Linked DNA regions of Homo sapiens. The protein of the gene in region 2 interacts with the protein of the main gene of each other region in a biochemical or structural test. Each region holds a gene or a part of one and is shown on either strand. Other genes may lie near its edges. The genes, in order: UNC5D and FLRT2.

What was found.
Region 1: the proteins of FLRT2 (region 2) and UNC5D form a complex in vitro, tested with the Homo sapiens proteins (one study listed by BioGRID).

The regions. Positions count from the first base shown.
Region 1 is NC_000008.11:35,234,449-35,251,426, reverse strand, and holds the start of UNC5D (netrin receptor UNC5D isoform 1 precursor), read right to left. Parts: upstream 15,953-16,978; 5' UTR 15,643-15,952; coding exon 15,540-15,642; intron 17-15,539; exon of another isoform or gene 1-16.
Region 2 is NC_000014.9:85,529,096-85,546,073, reverse strand, and holds the start of FLRT2 (leucine-rich repeat transmembrane protein FLRT2 precursor), read right to left. Parts: upstream 15,931-16,978; 5' UTR 15,540-15,930; exon of another isoform or gene 14,291-15,539; intron 12,726-14,290; exon of another isoform or gene 12,081-12,725; intron 1-12,080. UniProt on the Homo sapiens protein: Functions in cell-cell adhesion, cell migration and axon guidance. Mediates cell-cell adhesion via its interactions with ADGRL3 and probably also other latrophilins that are expressed at the surface of adjacent cells.

The DNA.
Region 1 (16,978 bases), on a different chromosome or scaffold from region 2:
CCCACGTGTTGTGGGAGGGATCCGGTGGGAGATAATTGAATCATGGGGGTGGTTCTCACGAAAGTTCTCATGAGATCCGATGGTTTTACAAAGGGCTTTTCCCCCTTTTGCTCAGCACTTCTTGCTGCCACCATGTGAATTAGGACATGTTTTCTTCCCCTTCTGCCATAATTATAAGTTTCCTAGGGCCTACCCAGCCATGTTGAACTGTGAGTCAATTAAATATCTTTCCTTTATAAATTTCCCAGTCCCAGGTATGTTCTTATAGCAACATGAGAACAGACGAGTATAGGATGCAAGGTGGAAAGATAAGGCCTAATAGGGAGGAAGAGGTGAACCATTGGCGGTCATCTTCATACCTTATGCTTTTGTCATTATAGGAATCTTCAAATAACTTCTTGAATTCTCAAGAAAGGACAGTTTCTATGTTTATACACAATCAATGCATGCATTAAATCCATGGCTCTCATTATCCTAAGGAAATTAATTCAGAAACAGAAAACCAAATACTGCATGTTCTCATTTATAAATGGGACCTACACACTGGGTACACATGGACATAAAGATGGCGGCAAGAGACACTGGGGACTACTAGAGTGGGGGAAGGAGGGATGAAAAAGCAACTACTGGGGCCAGGAGCGGTGGTTCATGCCTGTAATCCCAACACTTTGGGAGGCCGAGGCGGGCGGATTGCCTGAGGTCAGGAGTTCAAGACCAGTCTGGTCAACATGGTGAAACCCCGTCTCTACTAAAAATAGAAAAAAATTAGCCAGACATGGTGGCATGCACCTGTAATCCCAGCTACTCGGGAGGCTGAGGCAGGAGATTTGCTTGAGCCAGGGAGGCGGAGGTTGCGGTGAGCCGAGATCGTGCCACTGCACTCCAGCCTAGGCAACAGAGCGAGACTCCATCTCAAAAAAGAAAAACAAACTAACTATTGGGTACTATGCTTACTATCTGGGTGACAGGATCAATCATTCTCAAACCTCAGCATCACACAGTATACTCAGGTAACAAGCCTGCACATGCACCCCCTGAATCTAAAATATAAGTTGAAATTATTTGGAAATAAATAAATAAATCCATGGCTCTCAGTCTTAAGTTCCCAAATTGGGAACAACCTGAGGAACTTAAAACAAACAAACAAACAAGCAAACAACAACAAACAAAACCCTGGGTCCTTCCCACTGAGATTCTGACTTAAGTGCTCTGAGATCAATGCCTTGGCATCAGCTGACTGAGAACTTCAGAATTAAACTCTTTCTCTTCAGAATTTCAATTACACACATGGGTGTTTCTATAAACAAGGGTTACATTAAACATTTGGGGCTCATCTTTTAATCTAACGTGTTCCAATAAAACCATTTAAACTTTTAAATAACTTAAAAAAACAAAAAAAAGTAAATGCCCACACACATTCAAAGCACCTATGATGTTCTCACCTAACCCTAGGTGAAAATACTACAGATGTTTTCCTTTCTGCAATTTTGAAAAAAAAAAATGGCTTTCAGTGAAGACAAGGGATTTGTAGATTCAAAGCCTGACCACTATTTCTAGCAGCAAGACACTTCACTGATAAATTGCTAAAAATAGCCAAACCTTGAATATTTTGACACCTAATCTCCAAGAATCAAGAGTTTTCAACACTTCTCCAGCAAGGTGGCTTCAACATGAATCATCATAATAGAGGCACAAGAGTTTCATAAGCTCTATACAGGGATTGCTTTTTGCACGTTATTATGGTCACAAGAGATGCAGAATTCACTTTAAAAGAAACTCAGAACTGCATGAGAAGAAGCAACCGAAGTTTTTATTTATTTATTTTATTATTATTATTATTATTATTATTATTATTATTATTATTATTTTGAGACAGAGTTTCCCTCCATTGCCCAGACTGGAGTGCAGTGGTGCAATCTCGGTTCACTGCAACCTCCACCTCCCAGGTTCAAGCGATTCTCCTGCCTCAGCCTCCCGAGTAGCCGGGATTACAGGCACCTGCCACCACACCTGGTTAATTTTTGTATTTTCAGTAGAGATGGGGTTTCGCCATGTTAGCCACTCTGATCTCGAACTCTTGACCTCAGGTGATCCATCTGCCTTGGCTTCCCAAAGTGCTGGGATTACAGGCGTGAGCCACCACGCCTGGCCACCAAAGCTTTTAAAAGTATATCCAGTCACTCTTTTTGGATGTAAATTTATGGCTTTTTGAGGATATCATGGACATATTACTGCCAACATGGAAAGCTGTCTTCAAAATATATATATTTTATGTAGATTTTATATATAATTATATATAATTTTATATATATAATATATATATTTTTTTATATATTATATATAACTTTTATATATTATATATATTTTATATATTATTTTTATATAATATATATTATATAAACATATATAATATATATTATATATGTTTATATATAATATATTATATAAAAATATATAATATATATTATATATGTTTATATATAATATATTATATATTTATATTATATATGTTTATATATAATATATTATATATTTATATAATATATTATATATTTTTATATTATTATAGAATTATATATAAAATATATTTTTAAAATATAAATATTATATATATTATATATTATATTTTTATATATTATATTTTATATATTTATATAATATATTATATATATTTATATATTTTATATATATTATATATTTTTATATATTTTATATATATTATATATTTTTATATATTTTATATATATTATATATAACATATATTTATATTTATAAATATATATATTATATATAACATATATTTATATATTATATCTATTTCATATATAACATATATTTATATATTATATCTATTTCATATATAACATATATTTATATATTATATCTATTTCATATATAACATATATTTATATATTATATCTATTTCATATATAACATATATTTATATATTATATCTATTTCATATATAACATATATTTATATATTATATCTATTTCATATATAACATATATTTATATATTATATCTATTTCATATATAACATATATTTATATATTATATCTATTTCTTATATAACATATATTTATATATTATATATTTTATATAACATATATTTATATATTATATATTTTATATAACATATATTTATATATTATATATTTTATATAACATATATTTATATATTATATATTTTATATAACATATATTTATATATTATATATTTTATATAATATATATTTATATATTATATATATTATATAATATATATTTATATATTATATATATTTTATATAATATATATTTATATATTATATTTTTTATATATAATATATATTTATATATTATATTTTTTATATATAATATATATTTATATATTATATATATTTTATATATAATATTTATTTATATATTATATATATTTTATATATAATATTTATTTATATATTATATATATTTTATATATAATATTTATTTATATATTATATATATTTTATATATAATATTTATTTATATATTATATATATTTTATATATAATATTTATTTATATATTATATATATTTTATATATAATATATATTTATATATTATATATATTTTATATATAATATATATTTATATATTATATATATTTTATATATAATATATATTTATATATTATATATATTTTATATATAATATATATTTATATATTATATATATTTTATATATAATATATATTTATATATTATATATATTTTATATATAATATATATTTATATATTATATATATTTTATATATAATATATATTTATATATTATATATATTTTATATATAATATATATTTATATATTATATATATTTTATATATTTTATACATATTTATATATTATATATATTTTATATATTTTATACATATATATATATAGAGAGAGAGAGAAGTTATTTAGGATCTCCTAGTAGATTCATACTGAACAAATTTATTATTAAGGATCCAGATGTTAAGTAACTGGAACAAAAGCTTAAGATTAAGACTTAAGGCACCCTAACTTTCACCCAAACACAAAACGAATCTATAATGCAAACCTTTTTTACAATATTATTTCTGCTACACCAAACTGCATCCATCATATCATGACCTCAGCATTCTGTAAGCCAAAGGAAAAAAAAAAAATCTCTGTAATTTCAAAGATATTTTAGAAAAATATAAACATTTAAATAAAAGGAAAACATCCTTTAACAGAAGGGTAAAATGATCAATAGTCTTTAGTCTTCTGGTATCATTCTTTTGAATTCCTTTGTGCCTCTATTGATTACTTTTGTTATTATAAGCCTGAAAGGGAAGAGGCAAGGACAACACTGAGAAAATGAAGACCTGGATTCATGGGCAGGGACGGACGGAAATGACCTCTAAAAGCCAAGCAAGCAACTTCACTCCTCAACACCTTTTTTTCTCATGTACAAATTTGGACTTTGGCCTGGAAATTTTAGGGCCCTTTTTAGCAATGTAATTTTATGATTGTTTTTCTTTGCAAATGGGAAACAGAGAGCCACAGAAACTCAGTGATCAAATCAGTGTTCAATAAAGGGCCATGACATAACACTATTCTACAAATCTAGAAAAAGTGTTGTATGCCCACAGCTCAAGCGAAGATAATTACTGAAAATGAGGACCAACTGGCTCCCTGATTCTTTAAATCTCTTAACAAAACATGACCAAGTCATTGATTTGAGACAAACTGGAGGGCCGAGTGCCATATCTTGTGAGTTTTGCTGGAGTCGTGATGCTTCGTGAAAACAATTTGATAAGACTTCAGATCTGCAAGTTTAACATGAAATTTCATATATCTGGTATCTACTAAAAAAAAGAAAGAAGTCAATCTAGCAAGAGGGGTCCCATACACCCAACTGAGCAATGGTGAGCTATGGCAGAGGGTGCCTAACTCCTCCAGGTCTTCTCCTGCCAAACCACTTCTGCATTAGTTATACATGTATGCATTAACCTACAGCCACTGATTTAAGAGAAATCAAAACAAAAAAAAATAGATTTCTCTTATAGTTGGTACATTCTTGAAAATGCTTAAGCCAAGGATTACCAACGTCATTATGAAGTCCCATTAACTTGTCCTGCAATTTCTATTTCCAGAGTATTATCCCTTTACTGAAGGTTTGATGCATATTTAAAATGCCAAGAAAAGCTTCCTGAAATGATAAAAAAATAATGTGAATAAACGGTACAGAAAACAAAGGGCGGCATCACGGAAGTTCAGAGCAGGAAGGAGCCTTAATGACAATTTAGTCACTGCTTCTCCTACAAATAAAAAGAACTAGAGAAAAAAGTGATGTTTCAAGTACACATAATTGTGAACTTTCTAGCCCCCCACATTGCTTAAATGGAAAGGAAGTTTTGACTTGAAGAGGAGAAAGGAAACAAGAAAAGACCGAGCATAGGGGGTTAGATGGGAGACACCATGGAGAGTGAAGTGATGGTTAGCAGAATTAAGCAGCTGACTTTTGAGTCAAAATTGTGATTACATCCCAAGTTTAAGTGTTACTAATGCCATTTAAATTAATGGCATATAACTTTAATGATCTAAGTTTGCTATGATGATGATATATGACATTCTACTAATATATAATACACACAGATATCCATGAATTACAGTCCTTATCACCTTGACAATTATTAATAATTGACTCTACAATGGTCTTCTCCGCTGCAGAATGTGGTAGGTTAGAGCTGTCTTTTCACATTGATATCCTGGAGACTGATGTGCATTGCAAGTTAGCTGCTAAACTTTAGAAAACATCAGATGGATATTTTTATTTTTTGCTCTAAGTTGAAAAATAAAATTAATAACAAACCTGTTATTTCTTTATAGCAAACCCCCAAACCCTTATATCCCTCCCACACACCTCACACTGACAAAACCTGTGAACATCCTGATTGCTTTTTTTAAGAGAAACAACTTTGGAAACCTCCCGATACAAGCTGCTAGTAATCACTGCAGCTTCTGGTCCCAAGACTGAGAGAGAAACAAGGGCTGTCTATTCAGAGGAAGGATAGATTCTTTCTTTTCCCAGTTCCTTTCAAAAGGCTTACAACACAGTTATAGTTCTCTGGCAAAGAACTGTATTTTGTGCTCTGTATTTTTTTTCCATCTCTCTTAAAAAAAACAGGCTAGACACTTCTTAATGACATATTGATGGAAATTGTTATTATAAGTCTAATTGTATTGTGCCACTAAACTGCTTTCGAACACAAATCAGAAGAATTTCGCTTTACAACTGGACACAGAAAGTAAAAATAAAGCACATACACTCAAAAGTAATAATAAAGACGAGGTATTTAGAAAAGTACGCAGATTGAGGAGCTAGTATACTTCTAAAAAATTGGTGTCTCTAATGGCATATTTATTTAATTAATTAATTTTTTTGGAGGGACAGGGTCTTGCTCTGTCTCCAGGAATGGAATGCAGTGATTATGGCTCACTGTCACCTCAAATTCCTGGGCTCACACAGTCCTCTGACCTCAGCCTCCCGAGTAGCTGGGACTACAGGCACGAACAACCACGTCCAGCTAACTTTAAAAAAAAAAATGTGCAGAGAAGAGAGTCTGGCTATGTTGTCCAGGCTAGTCTCAAACTCCAGGCCTCAAGCCATCCTCCCACCTCAGCCTCCCAAAGTGCTGGGATTATAGGCATGAGCCACTGTGACCAGCCTGTAATAGCATCTTTAAAAACAAAACCTGAGAAAAACTACTGTAATTTGTTATTTTACTTACTTTAATAAACTACTTTAAATCCCCTGATTTTTCAAAAGTTCTTCAGAATATTCTACACATCAATTACTCCATACTACAGCATGTTATTTTTAATATATTCATAAAGTTACTGTCCTCCAATCATTCCTGACACATTTGTGACAGCCCTTTGTCACAGACAGGGCCATTTCTGTTTATAACCATGAGAAACATACCACCCTACAGACCAAGAAGGCACAATAGGCAGTGAAATGAATTTTTATCCATTTATTTCTCTTTCTGTCTCCGATGCTTATACATCCACATCCCTGTCAAATGGACTATGAGTGAAGTGCTGTATCATCCCACCTCAGTATAATCAATCCATGTGCTAATAAAATAGAATTACATGGTAACATCATCGAAAAGGCCCTGAAACCATGAAGGCTTGGCTTCTAGTCCTAGCACTGTTTATCACTACCTGTTTAGGTTTGTTCGACTTTGGTCAAAAAATCTCTAAAGTCAACCTTAATTTCATCATCTGTTCAATATTAGGGCGGGTACAAAGATACAAAGCAATCAGAATTAAGTGAGTCCCCTAAAAATGTTAAGTTGCATGCACATGAATTAAACAGCCACGCATAATAGGACCACATGATAGATGTCACTTAATCATCTTTCTAGAAGAATCTATCTAGGAATGTAGGCCTTAGTATCTGTCTAAAACAAATGTCAAACCCTCTTACAACTATTTTATTCTTCCTCTGGTGAATAAAGTTTCCTAAGGGTTTTATCACAGTATTGATTAGATTTTTGAAATTTTATTCTAAATATTTATGCCTTAATAAAGTTCGAGTAACACACATTATTCAACATGTGCTATGGGACAAGCCCTATCAGGTACTGGGTAAGTAAAAGTGAATGAGATGGAACTTGCATCAAAGGCAGAGGGGCCTGACACAACCTCCACACCATGTTGGGATAAGGATCCAACCGCTTGGGAAACATCACTACCCCATATGGACTCACTGCTCTGTTTTTTTTAAAACAACTGTTCTCATTCTATCTCTTGCTTAACTATAGCCTCATCCCCTCATTATCCTGAACTTCGGATCATTCTTAAGCATATGTAGCTCCTGCCAAGAGAATAACGTGAAAGAGTGCTACAGAAAGTTAGAAAGGCCTCTTATTTAACAAAAATCTGACTTTGGGCAAACTGGTAAAATTCTGGGTGAGTCAATTTCCTCTTTATGACAAGAAATAAATTAGATGCAGATATAAGACCCCAATTAGCTCAAAAGGAAATCCAAGACTTTTAAAATATTGTGAAACTGGAGCAGCATCTTTCTTTATAAATGCTTTATATTGCATCAGGACGGCGCCCTCAGAATGCCTATTTGTTTTATAAGTGGCTGTTTGTCTGAGTTAAAATTGACATTTGTGTTTTCTTACTCTTCAATTGGCATTTTAAAAATATTCTTACATGGAATTCCACTTCATACTGGCTTGCAAAAGAAAAAACAATATTGAAAATAGAAAACAAGAATTACTATCATCCATGGCCCCCAGATGGTGTCATCTGGGAGTTTATCAGAAATGCAGAACCTCAGGCCCCTCCCCAGGTTTATTAAATCAGAATGTGCATTTTAACAAGATCTGCAGTAATTCAAATGCACATTAACATCTGAAAAGCACTGATTTGTGAGTTTCAAATATTACCAGCTTAGCTTCCATAACCCATGATCATTTGACTTCCCCTTCTCTCCCAGTAGGTTTATTACACTAAATTAAAATAAAGATGTTAACTACTAAATAAGTACTGTTGCTAACAGAAGACACCAATGACTTCTAAGCAACCCTAAACTACCAGATATTTATTTAGAGGCAAATCTTCTCCAATATTGAGTAAATACGTTCTCTTTAATAATAAGTTGCTGGCCAGGCACGGTGGCTCATGCTTGTAATCCTAGCACTTTGGGAGGCTGAGGTGGGCAGATCCCGAGGTCAGGAGTTTGAGACCAGCCTGACCAACGTGGTGAAACCCTGTCTGTAAAAATACAAACATTAGCCAGGCACAATGGTGCATGCCTGTAATCCCAGCTACTCGGGAGGCTGAGGCAGGAGAATTGCTTGAACCTGGGAGGCAGAGGTTGCAGTGAGCCAAGATCCTGCCACTGCACTGCAGCCTGGTGACAGAGCGAGATCCCATCTCAAAAATAAATAAATAAATAAATAAATAAAATAATAAGCTGCCAACACCTGTGAATTGTATCACACAAAGCATAGTCATCCCAGTGGTGGTGAGTCCCTTGAAGTAGTTCAGACAGTTTCTTCACTGTGGCCTCTTGCATCTTCTCCTTCCTATGCCTGCCTACCAGTTACTTACCTTCCCAAATGTCTGTGATGTCATTTCCCCTCTGACTTATCTGACTGGGAAGCCATAGCATTCAATTTAGGTAACGACAAAACATCTGTAAAGTTTCTTATTCAAATCCCACGTGGTTACAGTGATATTTTCCCACCTGTGGAAAAATACCCTTAAATACAATGTGGGCTGGAGTGGTGGGGGTACCTGTACCAATCTTTCTGGGAAGGAGGGTTCTTTTGCACCTTATGAATCCAGTAATTTGGGGGCAGAAAGTCAATATTTGCATTAAATAAAGCCAACATTGACCTCTCTTGGAAGACAGCTTTCAACTTTTTCAGTCTCCTCATTTATAAAATAAACTATCAAAAGAAAAGAAGTTGATAAATGGGTACAAATATACCACTTAATAGAATAAGACCCAGTGTCTGATAGATCAGTAGGGTGACTATAGTTTATAATAATCTATTGCATATTCCAAAATAGCTGAAAGAGAACAATTCAAATGTTTCTAGCATAAAGAAAAGATAAATATCAAAAGGTGATAGATAACCCAGTACACTGATTTGATCTTTACTAATTATATTAATGTATTAAGTTATTACTTGTACCCCAAAACTATGTACATGTACTATGCGTCAATTTTAAAAAGTGTTAAAATTTAAAAATAAAAAATAAAAGCTACTCTGAAGTTTGAAAAAAAAAAAGTGAGACTGGTCATATAAGAAGAATACTGACCTCATTTTATCCTTGTCCTGATAGAAACAATATTCAGAAATATTTTATGCTCTATAGTGGCCTGATATCATCTGAAAAATGTTACTACTTGGTTATTGTTTCTACTTTAGCCCCATAAACACAACCCTCATATTTCTATCACTGAATTCAGTGAAGTGGTGTGGGGGGAGTGGTGGTAGGGTGAGCACAAAATACTTACACAGCGAAAACATACTCCTTTCAAGAGAAAATTCCAAAACCACAGGAATTAGCAGTGGATTTCAGATAACACAATCCAAAATGAATACATTAACATCCACCTAATTCTGAAAATTATCTACGCACAGCGTGTGTATGCACACAATAAGGCCATACGATGCAATGTGGCACAAACAATTAAAAGTTCTTTTCAAAGTGGAAATGCAAAATAGAACGAATATCTATTTTCTATAAATGAATCTAGCCATCTGCCTCACAAGAGCAGCAGCAGGAGTACCCAAAACAGCAGAAACAGCAGCCTCTGGTGTTAACAATCTATTCTCAAATCTCATGCTCCACATTTCCCTGGCAAACAAGGCTAAAAATACAAGACATGCAACAAATAGTCTCGTGGGATCTGCCGTTCCATGGATGGCGTATTCAATCAGAGTCATATTTTCTGCCGAAATTCAAAATTGAAAACAAAAGCAAGCTATCATATTGGAAACTGGCACTCAGAATTTTAAGTGTGAATCCAATCCCAAAGTATAGTAAGCTGAATGGGGAGAGGGCGGTTATTTTCAAACAACACAAATCTTTCAGATTTATCTGAACATATTTATAGACTTATTTAAGGTACTCTAAATTCCTCTATGCCTCTTGATAGTAATAAAGATATCATTTGAGTACTTTTGTCATCAAAATACAAGGGTCATTTTCTTTTCTGCATAGTTCAGAAAAATTGTCTTTGTTGTGGGCCCTGGAGTCAGATGGAGTAGGTACAAATCTAGGCCCTACTATGTCCTAACTCCATGGCCTTGGGCAAGCTTTCAATCCTGTGTCCCTCTTTTCCTATCTTACCAATGGGGGTAATCACAGTACTTACCTCAAAGAGTTATCTTCAGGATTACATCAGTTAATGTTTGTAGAGCATTTAGAATTATGACTCTCACACATGAAGTAAGTACTATTATTAGGAGTATTATTTCATACTCAACTAAGTATGAAAGTATTACTAATAAGTATTACTATTATTTCATGTAAGTATTATTTCATATTCAAACAAAGTTGCAGAAATGTATTTATTATTTTAAGGAACAGGTACAATACAAAAAGAGTGCTAACAACATGATAATAGGTCTTATGCCGGCAGTAGCCATTTAGAAAGTAAAGGGGTGAGGCCAGATGTGGTGGTTCATACCTGTAATCCTAGCACTTTGGGAGGCCAAGGCAGAAGGATCACCTGAGCCCAGGAGTTCAAGACCAACCTGGGCAAAATAGTGAGAGCTAATCTCTACAAACAAACAAACACACACAAAAAATTACTGAGCCGGGTGTGATGATGCATGCCTACAGTCCCAGCTACTCAAGAGGCTGGGGTGGGAGGATCACTTGAGCCTAGGAGTTCGCCACTGCAGTGAGCTATGATGGCACCACTGCACTCCTGCCTGGATGACAGAGTGAGAACCTGTCTCAAAAAAGAAAAGAAAAGAAAAGAGAAAAGAGAAAAAGGAAAAAGGAAAGGAAAGGAAAAAAGAAAAGGAAAAGAAAGAAGGAGGGAGAAAATAAGTGTCTCTACATAGAATATGTGACTAAGAATGAAATAGAAATAGGGAACGTTTCCATTGATCTATTCTGTTGAGCAGTTAGTTCATGAAGGTATCAGAAGGAGGAGGAAGGAAGAGAAGACAATGATGTTGCTGGCCAAGTAACAGCCTGGACGAAGGGACAATCAGCATTAATGGCAAAGGTGTAATCAAGAAGGAGGGCACATCTGGGCTCCCTGTGAACACATGTGCCTTCCCATTATGAGGGCATCACACACCACCACCACCCCCTTCCTTAAGAGGATGCTATGGAATAAATCACTTGTCTTTGGGATTAGATTTTAATACATGTCTGAGTCTCTAGCCTAGATATTAAAAAAAAAAAAGCAGAAGGGAAGGATATCAAACATGCAGTATCTCCCAATAAACCAATTCCCTGATAAACACTGGCAGTGCTTTAAGTTGGGTACTGCATTTGGTAGGAAGAGGACAATAGAAACAAATTTATGAAGCATTGAGACAATAAACAGAAAAGTGATTTCCTAATCAATAAGACAGCGCAGTGTAGAACTACCTGACGGATTCAGTCATCCAGTCCTGAGAGAGCTCAGAAAGGATCCACAGCTCCAAATGTTTCCCTCCCCTGTGAGGTACTACTTAAAGAACCACAGACCCACCGATAGGTCATCTGGAGAGCAAAAAAAGTATGCAAAGGGTGACAAGTGCTATCATTATAGGGCTAGGTCAGAACAATTAATCTCTTATTAAAAACTGAGATGCTTAAAAGATCTCTTAAGAAGGTGCCACTGGGCTGCTCAAAATAAGAGCACAACCCAAGAATCAGGAAAAAATAAGTCTGGCAGGAAATAGGGGAAAAAGACTCTTTCTCATAGTCCTAGGAAGAGAAAGATTTGTGAGGAAAAGGAACAGAAGAAGTAAAGTGGGAAGGAAGAGGGTGGCCTCACAACATTCATTAAGGTAGAAATGACTATAGATTTTAAACTTTATGAGCTAGACAGATAGACGGATTTAAGTATGTGTAAATCACAAGACTATTATTATGCCTATGTAATAAATGTGTACTTCTCTTGCCATTAATGCATTACTCTAGTTATTGCAATCAAAATTTCATTGTCCAGGAAATGTTTTAAAGCAAGAAATTGTATGAAAGCTCAGCTTGTCTAAGATTATCTTCCTCTCTGCCTTTAATGACTACAGTATCTTATGTACAGTATCTAAGGCAAAAATAACAAGCAGATGAACAGCAGTCCCCCTTTTTTTCTTGAAGAACAAAAACAAATCAGTATGACAACATGATGTGGATTCAGTTAGCACTTGGCAGGTCATGAATAACTTTTAAACAACCTCCTTTTAAGTTGGAAAGTGTAAAAATATACAGTGATCATGGCACCAGAGTGCCTTCCTTACAATATGCCGACAGGCAGAGATGTTCATCTGAAGAGCTAAGTCTTACTTACAAAGGAGGGAAACAGAACATTGCTTCTTGGGCCACTACTGGGCTCTACAACATTTCCTTGTCCCAAGGGTCTTCCTCCTAGAGTATATTCAAAACCAATTTGAAATCTCCCTCTGATTTGCAGAGGTTTCTACATAAGTATGGAGGGAAAGGAAAGAAAAAAAAAAGTTGGTGCAATCATTTTGGAAACAGATAAATGATAAATATGGTAAAGAAAACGCTACTGAATTGTTAAATATTCTCATAACAGCAAGGCAAATGGCATAATTCTATACCCCGTTGGTTAGGGCAAGCAAAGTATCTTGTTTCAAATCAACAAGAAAAGTCCTAAAGAACAAAAACTATTAATTGGATAAGTAAGAACAACCTAGGGCTAATCCTAGAGAGTATGGTGAGACTAGTGGTCAGGCAAGCATGCCACACCAGTGCATCTTATCTTGGTTTTAATGAATGGACACCTTTCTGGGAAGGGAGAACTTCATAAGCACTGAAACACACCCTCTATTCTGAAAACTCCAATTACACCCAACTGTGCAAAGCCAGGTGCATGTGGCTTCACCGGTTTCACAGCCTGACTAGTGCTCATTTCTTGAGGACTCTCTGACAGTTGCTAAGGGGAATGGGCCTCATGCCCCAGAATGTAAAATATGACATGGGAAATATCAGTCAGATTTACGGCTCCACTCCATGTGTCTTGCATATTACTATGATCTGTGCAAGACATTTGTTGTAAATAAGCCTGCAGAATGTACAGCATGTTTTCCAGGAGACCTTTAAAGAACAGCTTGCAGACAAGAGGTGCTAGCCTTAGTTTCGCAGCCAGCAAAACTCCATCCAAGAGGCTGCTGGCATGTCCCCACCTCTTGTTTCGAGCTGGCTTCAAGACAACGTCACCAACCCAATTCCAAGGGTGAGTACCTGGAGTTAGTGACTGTGAGGTATTCCACACGAATAGTAAGTGGAAACTCAGACATTTAGATTAACATTTAGAAAAGACCCACTTTTCCCATAAGAGTGTATTAAAAACAACTGAGAGCTGACTTTGCAATGAGACATTTGCCGTACGTAGTAAATTAAATGGCTGAAGCTTGTGCTTCTTCCAGTACGAGAAGGAACTGTGGTTCATCATAACCCAGGGTGTACAATCACCGACGCTCATTTTTAAACCTCCCCTGCTTCTTACAAAGCCCGCTCCATTAAAAAAAAAAAAAAAAAAAAAAAAAAACTTTTCAGGAAATGAAATGCAAATGGGCAAAGAATAGGATCATACAATGGAGAGCCTCTATCAACCTCTTAAAAAGAAAATCTTTCTAGGCAGCCGGACTGCTTTTAACACGCCATAAGCTTTTATAAAAATGAGATAACATTGGTTCTTTTGTGATCGTCCTCAACCCTTTCCACCCTTTCACTCTCCAGGCTGGTCGGAGCATGTTCAGGAGACCGAACAGAGCAGGTGAAGTGGTCAGCTCAGCTCCACCTCTCCCCTGGCAAGTGTAAGGCAAATCATTTAACGGTATCACATATTCTAAGCCTGATGGATGGAACACAGAGAAGGAAAAAGGGAAAGAAGGGCGGGAAGGCAAAGCTTCCGATTTTTTTCAAAGGTAAAGCTCCGGTACTTGAGCTGTGTCTGAAACTGCCTCTGATCATCTTCAAAACAACTCCTTGGGATTTATCTTTAACTTGATGCTGCCTGTCCTCGCTCAAGGTGGAGCTGAAACCAGTTGCGAAATTTCCCTCTGCTGGAGTCCAGAGGATCCAAGAAAATGGGGTCTAGGCTTCTAAGTCGGAAAGAAGCAGAGGTTTCCCTGCGGCTCGGTGGGGCCCGCGCTTCCAAGCCAGAGTAGGCGCCGGGAAGGGAGAGGAGGCGCCTGGTGAGCAGCCTCGGGCCAAGTGCTCATCCCGGCTGGGCACTGCAGGCGCGGTTAAACTGGGATGGTGCACGCCGCTCTCCCGAGCTCCAGGGCTGGCTGGGACCTCGGGCTAAGGACGCCCGAGGGGTGCCAAGCTAGGCGCAGAGCGAAGGGACTTCAGCATGGGTGTTCCTCCCCTAAGGGAAAAGACACCCTCTCTGTTCAAGCCCACCCTACAGACACTCCCATCACCTGGCCCCTCTCCCCAGGAACTCTCCGACATCGCTATGGGCGCTAACTCATGACCAAGCTCGGCTTGAGAGGAAGTGGAGAGGAGAGGGGAGAGCGAGATTGGAGTGAAGACCGGGCTACTCCAGTCTGCAGCAATTGGGGAGGGCTTGGAAAATGGAGCAGGCAAGGAGGGTCCAGGAAAACGGTAGGGGCCCGGGTCACAGCCACCTGTAGGATTGCGGCAGATCGCAAACTTGGGTTGGAAGGCTGTGGTCCCCTCGGAGTCCTCCACTCGGCTCCCATCCGGTTGGGCTTGGAGCGCCGAGGTGCAGGGCGCAAGTTGGGAAGCCAACGCCATCGGTGCAGGTCCCGCTCCGTCAGGCTGGCGCCCCTGCGCCCTCGCCCCCAGCTGCCCGCTCCGCCCAGCGCTTACCTCGGGCAGCCGCGGTCCCTGCCGCCCAGAAGCACAGCCCCAGCCACGGGAGCCAGCGGCGCGCCCCTCCGCCGCCGCCTGCGGTGGCCGCCGCTCTCCCCATGCTCCTCGCCGCGTTCCGGAGGGCGGCTCTTCTTCACGCTCCGGGAGCCCGGGAAAGGGTCGGCGATGAGGGTCCCGAGTCGAATGGGTCTCGGGAGTCTTCAGAGAGTGACTCTGCTCCACGATCGCTTCCTAAAGCAGCGGGGCAGGGAGCTCCGAGCCGCCGCTGAATGGGCACCCCGAGAAAGGGCGCGTCCCCATAGCTTCCCACGGCGCGGCGACCGCTGCCGCCAGCGCGGATGCCGGAGTCGCCCGCAGTCCCCGCCGCGCAGTTCCCAGCCCTCGCGCCGCTGCCGGGCCCCGAACTACGGAGCGGAGGCGAGAGTCCGCATCGCTAATGAGACCCCCGCAGCCGCCCCTTCCCCTCCCCTCCGAGCGGCAGCCAATGAGCCGGGCTGGGGCGGGGCCGCGGGAGGGGCGGTGACGCGGCGGCGCTGGGCTGGGGCCCGGGAGGCGCAGGTGAGCCAGAGGCCGCTCCACGTGCCCCCGGGGCGCTTCGGGCCCCGCCTGCAGCTCCCCCCCCCGCTCGCGGAGAGAGGAAGCGGGCTGGGAGTCGGGCGGCGGGGATGCGGCCACGCCGCGGGGAGCTGAGCGGAGCCGGCTGGCCTCTTGGGGCGAACGCCGCACAGATATGTGGGCATCTCGGTTGCCTAACTCAGTCACCTGCTTCCAGGAGACCTCCGTTTTGTTCATCTACTTTGAGCCCTTCTAAAGTCCTGCCTCTCCTACTTCCACTTTTTCCCATTAGATCAGACATCACTCAGGAAAACATCCTGAGAAAAAGAAAGACTTAAAATAAATGCGTAGTGGGAAAAAATAATAATGGAGTTACTCCATTGCTGCAACTATGCTAACTTCATTCATATAAATAAAGAAGTGGGGAATAACAATCATGGGTGCATTAAGGCTTGTATAATCGATTTTTATTTTTGCTTTCTTTTTTTTTCGAATTCCCTATTCTGTTGTCCTGAACACTCCGGAATCCCCAAACTTTTCAGAAGCTCCCTCATTTCGAATGGCTCCTATTTTTGTCAGTTTTAATCTGAGCCCAAGGAATTGCCTTCTGGTAAGTATCAGGGAAAGGAGTGTCGACTTAAAAAGGAAGAAGGTGAGGCGAAATTAATATAAGTAAGAGTTTATTTGGGCCAAGTGTGAGGATTGCAACTCAGGAGTATAGATTTAAGTTGTTTTGAATATATATTTTGATTAGTAGTAGTTATAAGTGGATTCTTAAAGGCAAAAAAAAGGGGGATGGGGAGTGGACTGATGTAACATTGTTAGGAATTTATACTGATTTATTGAAATAATGTCGATTAGTGATTAGTTATATATAGTTA
Region 2 (16,978 bases):
ATGTGGAACAAGCCTTTCCGAGCCCATCTCTCATCATTTTTTCACCCAATAAAAGCTTACCGCCTGAGCAATTACATAGATTTTGAAAACCAGTGAAGCTGACCTATTAATAACACAGTCAATTCTCCATTTTTCCCAGGCCCTCTCAGAGGCCACACACTTTATGCTATTATCTTCCCTCTGGTCATTCCGTTGTCCATTATCACCTCCACAGGGAAAAAGAGGTGAATCTCAAATCAATCCATTTAGCAGTGCTGGTAAAAGGGTAAGGGGAAAAAATGGAGAGTGTTCTCTACAATAAATATAGCCCCTAATCATTAGGCATGTATCCACAAGCTTTCCTTAGTACTGAAAATGTGCTAGAAGTTGTCATGCTTTGTTTTCAAATTAATGATTCTTCACTATTTCCATGTTACAGAAATACATTGAGAGACTCATGAATCTCTTTCACCCAAAAGTGGCAGACTAACTAATGATTTCTTAGGCAGTTGTCTACTCGAAAAGACAAATATAGAAAGTTGGACCACTGGTTAGCAGCTCATCATTTATACCTACTGGACAGTGAGTAATCACCTCTGAATTTGATTTTTAAGCCATGGACAAACAAATTTTGAGTTGATTTTGGAAATTATCCAGTGTCCATCTACCCTTTTAAGACAATTAATAATAACTCTAAAGTAAAACAAGCAATCTGAGGCAACTCTCTCTACTTCAGTTTCCCTTTGTGTAAAATGGGGCTATTCACAACTTTTATCAACAGAACCTACTGTACAAGGTTTAGATGAGATAATATACATGAACTGCATAAACAGCACTCTAAATAAACCTTACGATCAATATCATTATTAATATTGTTGTTACTGTTGTTATTACTGGACTTCTGGATAAGAAGTTGGCCCTGCCAATACTCTTTGTAATTCAAGAAACCAGGAGAGCACATTGTTTCTAAACAGTCTCATAAATTAACATGAAAAGATCTGGGGTGGTGTTATAAGCCTCCAGTATTAAGGGGTAGTGTCTGATCAAAAATCATCTCATGTGTTTTTTCACGAGTTTCCCACTGGCTTGGGAAGTATTCCCAACATGCAGACAGCCCAGATGAAACCAAAGGCTAGGAAGGGGCATATCAAACTGTGCTCTATCCTCTTCTACTCTTTTCAGCCACTGAAAAGTTTTGCTGAAAAAAGGGGAGGAAGGGATTGAAGTGTGTTTAATGTGTGTTTGCAAATACACCACTTGCATGCAAGTCAACTTTGTCCATCAAATGGCAATCTACCGCGAAACTTAACAAAGTATTGTTTGAATTTTCTTTTGGCCAACAAGAAGAACCTAAAGTCCAACTTCCTGTAACCATCAACACATTAAACCATATAAATTTAGATTTATTGTAACCTTCCCAAGCTTTGTGCTGTACTCAATGTGCAAATCATGAAGACTAAAGATGGATCCTATTTTGTGGAGCCAAATTAAGGCGTTGTGATTTCTAGCCTTCTTTTCCCTTCTCTGGAGAGCCCTGGGTCCTCAGAGGCCTCTATCAGGAAATAATGGGCCTAGGATGAAATAAACAAAATAATAACAAGCAAAAAATAAAGAAGAGAGCAAATGCACAAAATTTCACAAGACCTTTGCTTTGCTCTTGTTAATTATGCCAAGACAGATACACAAAGTTAATGCTGAGTTAAATTTCTCATTCTGTGGAAAACCACATCTGTGTGAACATCTACGTAACCGATAGTTTTACTCAGTGCCAAGAAAGGTGTATCATCAAGCGAAATTATTATTCTTTAAACAGACCTATCCAGTGTGGCATATGAATTGCCTCATGTGTGGTTTGGAAAGCTTGCTGCTGATCAAGGTTGGGTTTACCAGCCAATATTTGTCTGACAAACCTGCTCAGAGTAAGGCAGAAAGGTGGTGGTTGTACTTCCCCCTCCACTGGGTAATCAATCTATGGGAATAAAAAAATACTTCTGAGGAAGCAGTCCTTCTCACTGGATTATGAAGATCTTCTTGTGTTCCAGGTCTGGTCAGTGCTATTCCATTTACTAACTCAATTACATTTTTGCAGAATGCGGTACACTGGGCAACTCTGTTAGCACCACAGAGATGAAATGAATGGGCCAAAGTTCCTAAAGTCTAATGAGCGAGATAGACATGTAAGCAGACACATTTTATAATACAATATAAACAGAGAACCAATCAAAGTTCAAACAAAACTCTGTAGAAGCCCAGAGAAAGGAGTAACCAGGAGGGAAAGTGTCATCCACGTGCCTCTTAAAGGAAGAGTTTGCCAAATGGAGAGTATGCGATAATGTTCTAGGTAAATGGTAAACAGCATGGGAAAGGCAAAGTATCAAGAGGGCCATGCCTCACCATGTTTGGCATGAGGGTACAGGGGATGGGTGCTGAACAATGAGGTCTGAGGAGTGGTTTGAGATCTAGATTGTCACGGATCTTGCGTGGCATGATAACAAGTTTTGATGGGCTTTATCCAAAGATATAGGTTTCTAAAGGAATATGATGTGATTTCTTTATTTTTTTTTTTTAGAAAATTAATTCTGGGGACACCAAAAACAGTACAATGGTTTAGGGGACACTGATGGTGGGGAGAACAGACAGGAGACTGCCGCTACCAAGAGAGAAGCCAGCCCTGATATCTAGCCTCTCTGAAGGTACTTTTCTAGCAGATGGAGTTAAATTGAGCAATATTTTCTATGTGGCAAAATACACAGAAAAACTTTCAGAAAGTCACAAGTGACTACAAGTCAGACAACTATAAAAAGCACTGATTCTCCGGTCAGAAAAAAAATTCTAAAAACTATCTAGCTCAGTGATTTCCAATAATGGGAGCTTTCAAGAACTCACATTCCCAGGTTTCATCACAGACTTAACACATCAGAATCTCCACCAAAACAGGATCCACCTTAGTCTTCATGATTTGCACACTGAGTATAGCAAAGGGCATGAGAAGGTTACAATAAACTCTAAACTTACAGGGTTAAATGTGTTGATGGTTACAGGAAGTTGGACTTTAGGTTCTTCTTCTTGGCCCAGGAATCTGTATTTCTAACCAGCTCCTTCGGTTAATTCAGGTAGATAGGTCAAGTTTAGAAAAGAGTGACTATAGGCCAACCTATCAGATTTCTCTGTGAGCAGGGACAAAGTCTTGTCTGAAAGAGTATCCCAAGTGCCTAGCACAAAATTTAGCATGGTGCCTGGCACACAGTGAGGACTCAATCTTTGTCAAATCCTCAGTTACAAGCTCGTGACTCAAACGGATGTCTGCGTGGCATTCCTTCGGGACTCAGAGATTATTAGAATCAAGTTTTAAATTCCATTGCTGTCAGCACCACTGGACTTGTTCTTTACCTATCTGAGTACAAAACTACTTTTTAAAACCATTTCCCAAAGAATTTTAATCTCTCTTACATTTCCTAAAGTAGCAAAACAAGGTCTTTTTGTTTTATGCTGGGTTGAATGTTGGTTCAGAAGCTACTTACTAAGATGTTAACAGCTTACAAAATACACTCTAGTGCCTGCTTCTCTCAGGTCCAATTTGATTAATTATATGTATATATTACATTATATATTATGTGATCTTAACAGAAAAAGCCTATGTGTTTCCTAGCTTGGAGGTCTGGGGCATGCCTAACATCTTGTTAAATATAGCTTTCCTACATCAATAAATTTACGGATTCACAGTGTTGAAAAAAACAGGGGCAAATCTCAAATGTTGAATGGAACACAGAAATTATACTATACATACATGCAATTATAATGATAAATGAAAAATAACCCCAGTACCATGTATTTTTACCAGGACATCTGAACACTGCTATTTGTTCAGAAGTATCTGCAGTAGAAACAGTAAGAAGTTCCTTTACTTAATTGAAAATTATCTTCTGAAAGAAATAGTTCCACAATGAACTCATAGCCCAAGAGTATCATTCTGATTCCAATGTACACAGCAAGGTATAATCATTCTATAAGGATAGAATAAGCCTTAAGCAAGCATAACGATAATTTACATGCTAATCTTCTACAATAAAATATTTTCATGACTCTGCCAAGAGTCATGTATAAAGTGAATTGTGTGAGGAAAGTTGTTAAAATTCATTTTGATAAAAATCTTTGTACTTTGGCAAGGACATAACCATGGCTCACTGAGCTCAGTGTCATAGTCTAGACATGGAACTCCTTGGAAGCTGCAGGCACTGGTGTCATCGGCAGAAGGACACATGGCTGTGAGGTAGAAGGCATGGGGGTGGGTATAAACCCATTAATTGCCACAAAGGCTATGCTTTCAATGAACAAATAAAGTCCAAGTTAGGACCCAGTTCATTCCCCAAACTGAGACAAGTCAGTAGAAGGTAATGGTAAGACAATGAAATCATTATCATTTTGGAGACAGAAGGACCTACAGTCGGCATTCATTAGGCCTCTCCTATGTGCCAGAACAGGTAGACATTTTAAAGAATTATCTCAATCCTAAAATTAATAGCTCTAGGAGTAGAAAGAGCTACTCCTCCATTTTCCTCCATTTTCTACTTAAGGAGACAAAGAGTAAGACTGTCCATCTCCAAATGAAGAGCTCTTTTCACTAACACTATGAGTTTCTGGCATACTTAGTGTTGACTGCACTCCCTTCAATCTTGTATAAAACTGCAATGCAATTAGGTTTTGTGTCTACCTCTCTGCTCACTAGCCTAGCTGGCCTCAAGTGGAGGGATCATGCCTTACCTACTTTTGGCCTGTCCCATCTTACTCTATGCCCAGTTCATGGATAGTGCTAAAAATCATCTCCTGAATGAATGAGCAAGCTTTCTTCATTTGGTGAAACCTCCATAAGAATATCTCCTTCATGAAGATCAGGCCAGTCAGACTTAAATATATTTTCTGATTGCATTTTGTACTTTTCTTCATTTACAGTTTCCCTAAGACCTATTTGGAAAAAGAAAATCACCAATTAAAAACTATTTGGGTTACATCACTATTTTTATCATATTAAGGACATATGTGCTAAACTGGCACTACCTAGCTTCAGGCTATAACCATACTTCCTCCCCATAGTACATAAGACTTATATTTGTTGGTGCATTTCAGAGATATAAACACGTACTAACTCCCCACATATATACCTACAGATGATTCTCATTTTATTAGTAGACCTCTTTAAAGTAGTAGCAAATATTTTCTCTCTTCAAATATTATATCATTCAACACTGCCAGTACAAAAGGTATTCAGATTAATTTTGCCGAACTATGCAAGTAATTTTCCATGTTAAAATACAGTTCTGTGGCCACATACTTTACAATGTACTGCTAAAGTACTAATCAACTTTAAAAAAAAAACATTAAAAAAGCAAGTGTCAGAACTCCGACAATAGCAAATCATAGATTGAAAAGAATGTTGTTGGATACAGACTTCATACCTCAAATCACCGAAAGAAATACTCATTTTGGCCAAGAATCGGGATCCAACCACGTATTTTATAAATATAGATTTCACCAAGGCATTTGTTTTCTGAAGCCTTCAACTATGCAACAGAAAAACAATTAAGAATTAACCTTTACAAAGGTCTAAATGTAAACAATTTAGCAAAGAGAAATAAACATGCTCACTCTTGGAACCTTTAAAATTAAGAGTCTCAGATTTGACAATAGTAAAAACAGAACTGAACAAAACATGCAGAAATACACTGTAAAGAACTGTTCCACAGGGTTTAATGACACTAACATCAAAATAAAGCCAAGCTTTGGAATACACGTTGGCTTCATAATAAATTGTCTTTCTATTCACTGTTAATGGGTTGAGGAGGTTTGCCAAACTACAAAATGTCCCTTTTGCACTAGCCTGCCTTATTTTGCAAAACAAAATTTTAAAAAATCATTGTATTTCTATTGGTGTGTGTTTGCAAAAGGTAACCTGGATAGTTAAACTGTAAATCCAGTCAAAAAGAGAAACGACCTCATTTCAGAAAACATTGATGATTTATTTTTCCAAAAAAAATCCTCAAAATTCTCTTTCCAAAATCAAAAGAAAAGTTTGACCCTTGAACTCAACTCACCCTAATTATCATTTATCCTTAAAATGGATACTTTCATCAAAATAGCGCAAACTCAGAAAAGGAGATAATCCATTATTAACTGAATGGAAGAAATGATGCAGGGGCTAGCAGCCAGTGTATTGGTTAGATGATATCTCTTGAGGCCGTAAGAGCGAAAGCTCCTGAAAGGCAGGACTCTGTCTTGGTTACCATTTTATTTATATAAAACCTAGTCTATCATAGCACAAGACAGGCATGCAGTGATAAATGTTATCAATTTGAATAATGCCTCTTTATAGGAATATAACACTGTATTGTTATCAAGGTATTTTCACACACATTAATCTTATGTGACCTCTCAACAACTCTGTTGAACTCTGTAGAGAGGAAATTAAGTCTCCAGGAGATTAAGTAATTCATACAAGGCTGAATATAGAAAGAAGCATGCTGACATGAGAATGTAGGTTTTCTTTTCCTTCCCCCAAAGCAATCTCATTTATTTCTCACTCCCCACCACAAAGTGCCAAATACGTACATCATAGGATTATACTCATTCAGAACAGGTAAACTTGTCATCTAATCTAATGCTGAAGAGTGAAATGCTATTATTTTAAATCAAAATATTTCTAGGCTTGTGATTTTTTTTTACTGTTCCAACGAAAACAAACAACTCTCATCATTTTGGGTGGTTTCATAAAGAATGGAACTTCTCAATTCTATCTGCAGAATTCTACATCTGTATGATAAAATGTAAAATGCCCAGCCTTAGTAGCCCTTAACTTCTTTCTGGCTCCAGTTACCCAATCAGAAGTGAGGCAGGTAGGACTTTCCTGTATAAATTCAGAGGCAGTTGTGAGAAATAAATGAAATCCTGGATGTGAGAACTGGAAAATGTAAGGGCCCGGAGTGATGAGGGTGGATACGAATGTGCTCTCAAAATCAATCTTAAAAAGAGATTCCTGGAACCTCTATGGCCCCTATGCACGCAAACAAACCTCTTACCTCCACTTTGTCTATTAGATATGATGAATATTATAATTCCTTGCATTATTTCCTTTGTCTAAGTACTTGAGTCCAATTTTGGGAGCAAAGTGGGAGAGGAAATCATTACAGAGGCTGTTTAGATGCTAGATTCTGATGAACGTGACATGTAGAGGCAGCTGGGGCTAAGAGTGACACCAGCATGTGAACCTATTTCAGGACTGATATGCGTCTAATGTTTTCCATTCAGCCATATGACCTCTGTTGACTTCAATGGACAGTATATTTGTGAACCAATTTTAGGAGCCACTGTTCTTTTGCTCCCTGCTGAAGGTGGTTTCAATTGTTCTGAGGCCTAATATCATCTATAAACTTTGGGACCTGATATTTTTTCAGTGGGTTGAAATCCAAAAGCCCTCAGGTTCTTAAGGGGTTCAGATGGAAGATTCTTTTATCTGTGTCTTGAAAGCTCTAATAAAGAGAACTGAAATATAACAGTATGACATGTGAACTGAAGGGAACAGAAGACCTTTTTCCAAGTTTCTTGCACATTCCCTTAAAAGTAACCTGGGAACAAAGTGGGGGGAAAAACTGCTCAGTTCTAATGAGCATCTAATGGTTAGTAGCTCCAGAGAGTTACTTTGTGAATGCTTCAAAAATGGCTGAGGTCTTTAACCATTAAACTGCCAGAAAAAGTATGTCCTTAGTAAGTATCAGCAGAATAACTGACCAGTGTTTGAGAATCATCAACGTGTCCTTTTGACTTTCCAAATTATATAAGAATATTTTCTTTGACCTTCCCTGATTAACAGATCCGGATGTAACAATGACACTGCTTTGTTTGGGTGACTCAAGGCACATGGCACTGCACACTTTTGCAGGAACACATCCTACATTAAATTAAGTTAGAGGTGGTATTTGAAAAATAAATAAATAACGGAGTTCCAATTCACTGCAAATGGTACAGGAGGCCAGTAAGTGGGAGGCTTGCAAGAGAAGGACTTCTTTTAGAAAGATGTTTTACAGAACTTTTTCTGCATCATTAACTCTTCTGGAATCCTGAACACAACATGATGAATTTCCCTGAAAAAGTAGCTACTGTTTAATTTTGAATCACTTCAAAGAGCCACAGTAGAAGGAATCAAAGAAAACCAAAAACACCAGTAGATGTGAAATTCGCTAAGGAAGAAAAAAAAAAAACAAAACATGAAGGTTCTAACAGATTTTGACCATGTACTCAAAATACCACTGATTATTTTACTAGTACAGTGTTTTACTGTTCCATGAGAATGAAATAAGTCTCTGTATTCATCAGAACACAGGATATTTTTATTACAATATTTGTGTCATAGCCTTTAAAAAAGGAACATAGTTCAAACCTTGAAAAGAATCTCTGTCTTAAAATGGTTCTTGATGTATGTGTGTGTTGTGTGTGTGTGTGTGTGTGTTTTACTATAAACAGATACGTAATTGGAGGTCCTTTATTACTGAAAGGAGTAAAAGTATACTGATACGTCAATTCGCGACATGTAGTTTTAGAAGAAAGATATAATTGCACAAAAGCAATTTGGAGAGTAGAAAAAGTAAGAAAGTTGTCTGAAGTAAGATAATGGTTGTTTAACTTTAATAATAATAATAGCTAGTCTTAAAAAAGTCTTTTGTGTAAAAATTGCCCAAGGGAAAAGAAAGAAAACCTCCTAAAAATTCCATATCCCCAAATACCACTAGATCAAAAACCATCTGGAAAATGTCAGATAATGGTATCCACCCACCTAAGAAATTCAGTAAACTTTGTCTTCAATTAGCATTTGAAATAATCGGCTAAAATTGAAATTTCTATCTGAAAACCCTCACAAGACAAACCTGGATTAGGAATCAGATTTTTAAAGTCTCCTTAAAAGGACCATCTGTTTATAAATACTCTTCTCACACTCTTTGATCTGTACCATAAGTTCACAGTAGAAGCACAGCAGAATTTAAAGACATATACACACAGCTACCATGAAGTCTAGTTACCACATACATATTTTGAGCTCGTCTCAAGTTTCCCTTGTTATGTAAGCACTTAGGAGCAATAAAATTTCACTTACATTCAGCAGCATTGTGAGTCCCAAAACAATAGTCAGCCTGACTGTACAATCCCTTCATTGGCAGTGGATAGCTCTGGTGTTTTATTTATGTTGATCACACTGTCAATGCTATATGGAATAACCATTTAGTTGCCTCTCTATTAGTCCATAACATTTTTATTACTGTAATTAAATGTCATTATCCATATTGAACTCTGTATTAGAAAAATCAAATTAGGTAAACTGAAATATCCAGAAAGAACTACAGAACTGTTGGGATTCACCCCCAGCACCCTGACGTCATCTTCAGACTTTGATGAGAAGGAAAAAAAAAAAAAACCATGAGTATTCACTTCTCACAGATAGAGGTCACTAATGGACTGAATTTGAATCACTGTAGCAGAAATCACAAAGTTATTAAAGTAATCTAGTGAAAAAGGAACTCGAATTGAAATTAAAGATATCAAAAGATGATTATCCAGAAAAGTCTGACCTGAATACAAATATTACATCACCTTGACCTTTTTTGAATCTTCTAAACAGAGAGCAAAACCAAAAGCCGCTCGGCACCCTTGCTGTTTTTTAACTTCAGACGCTTCAGATCCCAGAAGCAGGAATTCTTCCTTGTAAAGTACAAAGCTCAAGAGTCAAACTAGATCAGATGTTCACACTGGGTCTCTACAGAATAAAGCTTCTGGACTTGTACATACTTGAGCCTTTCTTAAAACCACAGCTTCAAACTGGGAAAATATAAAGTTGTCTAAATCCTAAATCAAACTCTCCAGCAGGCCAGAATATAAATGTAACGGGCATCAGAGAAGGTTCAAATTAGATCCAGCCGGTCAAAGTCAAACTCGTATATGATCACATCATCTGAAACCTAACATACAGGAAAAGCCAGGACTGCTTTGGGGACTCCAGGGTAGCCCAGCATGGTGTCATTTGGGAATCTACTTTCTTCTGCTAAAAGCATCCCCTGGAATTTCTAAAACTGCAATGAAACTACTGAAGTGTTAAGACATGGGCTTTAAAACAACAACAACAACAACAACAACAAAAAAAAAAAAAAAAAAAAAAAAAAAAACAGCATTCCTTCCATGCTAGGTTTGTAATAGGTTCTGCTACAGTACAGCTAGCCCAATTCTTTTTACAATTTCTTGTATCTCTACTGGCAGAGACATGGAATAATGTTTGAAATTTCATCTTCCAACCTCCTCCAGTCAAAGATATTTGCAACTCAACATGACAGTATGGTGTTGCACTGTCTTCAGTGATTATTAAAAAATCCCTAAATGGTTTAACCCTATCCTGTTTCGGGCTTTCAAGGAGGGGAGGAAGAGAAGTAGTATTCTCAGACGCAATAACGCTGTGGAGAAAGAAGTAACTTTTCATGGTATGCGTATTACCTACAGATTGATTCTCTGCTAATATGGTGGCTGGTGGCTTGCCCGTCATAAGTAGCTGGCCCATGTTGTTCAGTAATGAAAACAAGTGAGAATCTAGTTCTAACACTTCAAATACGGACCTAAAATTTTACATTCACACTGAACAACCTAATATATCCCTGGACAAATGCCAATCTGCATTCTATTTACCTCAAAATGTTGTTGTTTTTTTTTTTTGGGGGGGGGCTTTTCATTGGATATTTATTAAGGTCATACCGGTTAAGTCTACAGATAATATCGGTCCGATATGGAAGCTAGCCTTCAGATTAGCTTTTGGTTGTGAGAAATTAGACATAATAAATTTAGCAATAAGTCTGTGAGCGAGTGGACATGCTCCAAAGCGCCCTGAAACCCTGTGTGATTAAAGAGCCTCCCAGCTGAGTGGGGAGCAATAGCTCCCATTTAGAAGAGGCTTTGCATAGCAAATGCAGCATGTAAAGAAATCTAATCAGCACCTTGCACTCTTGAGCGAGCGTTTACACGGATTTGTGCCTTACACTTGGTTAGCTAACTGTAAGCTTTACAAGAGATTCTCTTACTAAAATTAATCAAAAGCTCTTGAAGACTGATTCCCATTCACAGGAGAAGACAGGATGAGTTTCCAGGCGAATAAATAATGATCATAATAAAGATAGCAGCAAACGCTGAGCTGCTTTGAAACTAAAAACTCAGTTGGGGGAAAGGGGGCGTCGGGGAGTTGGGGCTGGAATCTTTTTGCTTTTGGAGTGAGCTGCAGCTATTTTCTTAGCCTAAGTAAGGCTGCCGTTCGGGAAACGTGACCGTCTTCTCTCCGCTGCCGCCGCCTCAATGCGCACACGCGGCCACTCACTACCTTAGGACCACTGCGCATCAGGCCACCGAGAAAAATTCCGCCTCTCTGCAACACCACTAACCCCCTCCCCCAAACACACGCACACACACAGACACACATACGGACAGTCGTGGCAAATTCACATCACCAATAGCTAACACGTTTCACCTCACCCCTGAAAATGTAACTTCTAAAGTTCCTATTTTATGATGCCAGAAGGTGAAGGGAGGGAAGGAGGATTCCAGGGATGTCAAAAGGGGAAAGGATATTTTTTCCTCTTTGCTTGCAATATTTCACCCCTGAAATTTGCTGTCCAGCTAAACGAAGCAGGAGAGTAGGGAGTGGGCTCAAATCATTTTTTAAAAATGCTAAACGGGTGAGAGTGTGAAGGGGGGAGCGTGCGGTAAGTGAAATCCATGAACCATTTCTCTGGACTGAAGAATACTAAAAGCCCCTGGATTCACGTTCCAAATTTCCAAAGAGCTACAAGATGAGGCACCAGCTGGGGCTGAGGGTTCTCACCCACTCCTGGGGGAATTTGCCTCTCAGCACAGCTGCCCCTCTAACGTGACTAGTGATCTGCCAGCGCTCGGTGCTCATCCCCGGGATCTTGAACTTCGCCTCCCTCTTACTTTCTGCCAGACCCGCGAGGGCCAGGAAGGGCTCTGGGAGGAAGCGGGAGCGCAGCGGCGGGGCATGGAAGAAGAGGGTTGGGGGCGCGCGTTACCTGCAAAGGTTCTCGAGGTCTCCTTCCAGCCCTGGTGGTAATCCCGCTCAGCGCCGCGCCCTCCCCCAGATCCAAACTTTTGCTGGGTCCTCCGGGTGGCGGCGGCGGCGACGGCGGCGGCTGCTGGAGCCAAGCCCTGTCGCCCGCAGCGTCGGGGCGCGGGGGTGCGGAGGCCGGAGCCTCAGAGCGGCGCGCGCCTCCCCGCAGCGGGCCGGGGCCGGGGCGCCCAGCTCGCCTCGCTTGCTCTCGCCTACGTCCCCTACGGAGCTGCGGCATCGTCTTCCCCCGTCCTCCGCCACCACCGCCTCCAGGGTTCGGGCATGCCACTTTCTCTTGGCTTCGGCCGCCGCGACCCCCGCCTTCTCTCCTCCTCCGCCTCCCCCTCTCCGCTTCGCCAAGCCAACGAACCCCAAAAGAAGTACAGCGAGCGGGGAAGGCGGCAGAAAGCTGCCCCGCGGCGCCGGAGCTCCTCGGATTTGGAGGATCCCGGGACTCGGCGGGAGAGCTAGGCGGGCTCTCCTCCGACGCGTGTGTGCGGACAGCTCGGAGCCGGGCGTGCGGCGCTGCGCGGGGGCGGGCGCAGGGCTCGCTCCAAGTGCTGCGCCCGCCCGGCGTGGGTCTGGAGGCTGCTCAGACCACACTACTGCCTCAATCCGACGCGGCCGGGCTAATGTAGGCGCCGCGGCCCCCACCCCTACCCCTCCTGACACCCCCGGATATGTTTACAGTAATGAATTCGCGGGATCGCCTCCGCAGCTCCCGCGCTCCTCCTCTCCCTCCGTCCCTCGCGCTCTGGCGCGCTCCGCTCCTGGAGCCCTCTTTCTCTCCCTCCCTCATTCCCTCCCTCTCTCCCGGAGTCCCTCCTACTTTTCTGGTTTAAAGAATGCTTGGGAGGCGCGGCTGCTACCCAGTGATTTCCAAGAGGCAAAGTCAGACTTGGCTTTTAACCCTGTCCTCTCTGAAAAGAGTTGAAGAGCGCCTGGCTAACCCGGCAGATGCCACCCTGACCTTCTCTCTATCTACCCGGCACATGCCGTTCCTACCACCAGTCCTTAGGGATAATGTCACCATCTGAACCCTGAAAGGAGAATTCCCCATACCTGCTTAATGGTGTACTGCCAAGAGGGAGGATCTATTACTTAGACACTGAGAAATGATCGAAATGTGAGATTAGAGGGTAAAATACAGCAAACCTCTCAACCAAAATGGCGTTATTTCAAATGCAGGCAACCTTGGTGATGTGCCCCCCACTCCTCACCCCATCACTAGTTCCCTCATCCTGGACCACCTTAAATGACTTTAACTGGGGGAGTAATCCAAAATTTAATAGGATTAATTTAAACACCCCCACTTTCTTCCTTCAACCTGGCTGCTTCTGGCAAGAGCGTTGTTAAATTTCCCCATAGATTGCAGCGGACAAAGAAAGATTCAGCCTAAAGATTAGGAAACAGTCTTGACAGCTAAGAAGCCTGATTTCTGTACAGGCAACGTTTCCACTTCGCAGTCTCTTTCCAAAGGTTAAAGGGTAATGTAAAAAACAAACAAACAAGTAAAAAAAGCTAGGTGCACGTCTCTATTTAGGAAGGAGGAGATGTTTTTGGTTTTCTCATCTTATTTCGTGCTGCTCTTCCTGCCTCCAGTAAGTTGCTGTCATGTTGTAACAAGTCCGGTGAGGCTGAATCTGAACAGAAGAGGGAGAACGAGCCCGCGCCAAGAGCTACGCCGAGACGCGCCGTCGGTGGGGCCACGCGAGATGCAACCGGAGAGTTTAAAACTAGCCCAGGACCAACCCCCCAGGGATCCGCTCAACTCTCCCCGCAGAAGAGTTTAAGTGGGGCAGTGGCCGCCACAGGCTGAGGATGATTTCCGGACGCGCCCCAGGCGCGACCGCACTACTCGTCCTCAGTTCAAAGCCTGAGTGACTTGGCACCACTTCCCCAATTGTTTTTTATTTCCTTCGCATCCCTGTTGTGTCTACCGCTTTCACGTATTTGAGAGCCTAAATCATGTTAAGACGACTTGGAGAAACGCCCGATTTGCCTCCCAAGCCACGCAAGGATCCACCCAGACGCACGCCCGCGCGGAGACGCACGCTGGCACACGCGCTCACACACGCGAGCACACACACGCGCACACTACCCGGTTCGTGCGCGCGGGTCGCTGTTCCTGTTGCATTATGCAAAGGTGGCTGGGAAAGCGCGTTGACTTACATTTACATAGCCCATCTTCTCCCCACAGTATGTGACTAATACGTATCCCGGGGAGGAGGGAGCGCGGCTGGGGGTGCTAATCGGAAGGGAACAGACAGTGAGTGCCATCTTGCTGGGAGGTTCCAGAAGCAAAGCGCCAACGACGACAGTAGCGGTGGCCTCAGCTCCACCAGTAACTGCCGCTGGCAGGAGCACCACACGCTCTAGGAGTTTCCCGGGTATCAAGTATGGGTCCAGCCCGTCCCAGTTATCCTCTTCCCCTATGGCTTCATTCCCGTTGTCAGTACCCCGACCTCAGCTTGCAACCTTGATCTTGGGCTTGATTATAAATGACGAAAGACCGCGGCAGCCTTCAAAGTGCGGGAGCGAGCCCCGTACTGGTCAGCGCGGCGGAGGGATCTTTCCAGGAGGCCCCAAGCCCCCAAGCCTGTGGAGAGACTTGGTAACAGCTGGCAAGGCCTGCTCCAGCCACCCTCGCTGGCTCCTTGCCCCTGCATTCAGCGCCTGAGGGCGTTATTCGCCCTCTCCCTGCGTCCCACGCAAGCGGCTCAAGGAACTCACTCGATCCGGATTCCGCCTCGTATGCTCTCCAAGCCTTCGCCACCTCCGCAGGCGCTCTAGAAAGGCGTGATGGCCCCAGCTCAGTGCCCGCCAGCCCGAAGAGGACAAGCAGGGCTGGAAGGGACTTGGTTTTGGAAAAAGCCCCACCCGCCCCCACCAACTGGAAGGAAAAGGAATTAGTATCCACCGCATCTGTTTAACTGCTAATAGATCCCAGATTACGGGCAGGTAGTAGGTTGGTGTCTTTAGATACAACAGCCTGATAATAACGCTGGTGACATTAACAACAGCTTGTGGAGGGGAGAGGGTTGTTACTGGTGAAAGTTAAGAGATTCAATCTAGGGAAGTAGGAGACTGAACTCTGACAAGGTTAGGGGCACTGAGAACCCCAATTTAGCATCGATGCATCTACCAGGCAAGAAAATTTGCGTTTTGACCCAGAACTCAGTCATGATGCTCCGTAGAGGAGGTGGATTCGACCAGCAGACAGATGTCCCCAAAGTCGAGAGAGAGCTAAGCTGCCTATTTTCTCTCCAGGTGAAAGACAAAGCCTAGAGCACCCCACTTAAGATGACCACCCCCAGCTCTTTCAAAAAAAAAAAATCCCCCGAAGAGACAGCGTGGTGCCAGCGTAGCAGCAGCTCGGCCGGTTACTGGAAACTTCACCTGGCAACGCAGCCCCTTTTACCTGACGGCTGCGTCTTCTCCTTGCAATGGGCTCATCCGAATCCGACAGGGTCAGGGAGGTGGAAAGGGAAGACGCTGGCGCGGCAGCAGCGGGGATCCCGGGGCATGGTATTGTTTTAGGGGTCGCCGCCGAGGTCCCTCCTGCCCATCGTTGAGAACTGCCACCCTGATCCCAGGGCTCGGTGGACACGGCGGCGGGAGCGGAGATGCCGCCTCGCCGCTGCTGGGCACCAGGGACGGAGGACCAGAGGCGCACCTCGGAAAGGAGTAGCTCAGCGCCTTGGCGCGGAGATTTGCGGGCACTGATGATATCTCGAGCGCTCGTTCCTCCGCGGTGACAATGGATAATGCCAAACGCGCAAGTGACGGCGACAGGTTTCGAACGTACAACTAACTACAAGGTACCCAGCCTGAGACAGTATGCTGCTTTTCCCCTCCTCCTCCTCTCCCTCCTACCAGGGAGGGAACTAACTTAACCCTGTGTGCGCCTGACACTCCCTAGAGAAGCTGGGATCGACTAGGAAACCGCAGGCAGCGGCTCCCGGGGGCGAGAGCTTTGTTCACGTGCGTTTCCAGTGGGTGTGTTGCTGTCTAGGGGCACTCGCGTGGCAAGACGCCCGTGGCTGGCTTCCAGCGCCCAAGATTCAAGGAAGGGAAGGAGCCCTAGCGTTTCATCCGGACCAGACCCAGCCCTCGGAGTCTATTTTTTGCCTCCAGTTACCGGATTTATTGAAGTTGCCAGCGAAGTTGGTTTTATTCCTTTACTTCTCTGCTCTCCGCCCCCGTCCACATCCCCCAACCCTGTATTATTTCCTGTCCTAGCTGCGCTTTAAAGATTCGGAACTTTTCACTCGTTCTAGCTACAGATTTTAACTGTGTTCCGTGTGCGAGACGAATTGTGGAGGGCACCCACCCACCCATGCCAAGTGTAAATGAAACCGCAAGAAAAGCTGCCTCCCACTCACCCATCCAGTGTCCGAGTAAGCCTAATGACACACATTCACATAACTAAGAAGACACGGGAAGATAGGGGTGCGGAGGACGGAGTTTGATGTGTGAATGGGAAATGGAGAGAGGGGACAGCGCGCGCGAGAGAAACAGCGCGAGCCTGAGCCTTAGAATGGAATAAACGGGAAACACACACAAGAATGACGATGCAAAAAATGTATCTAAGTCCCAACATTGACAGCAGAGGGTCAGCTTTAAGCGCCTACATTTTGATCCGCGAAATTTCCCAGCTTTTTTGGAGGCGGTTACATAGAGAACACAGGAGCCTCTGCCTTGGCCGCCCAGATGCTTTGCATTTTGTAAACAGCTTTGACTAAGTGCTCTGGACTTCCAAGAAGTTAACTGGAGTGGAAGGCGAGTCATATTGTGGATGCGGAATGGAAGCTTAGACAAGAAAAAACTGTCAGCAGAGCGCCTCTGCTCTCACCGTCA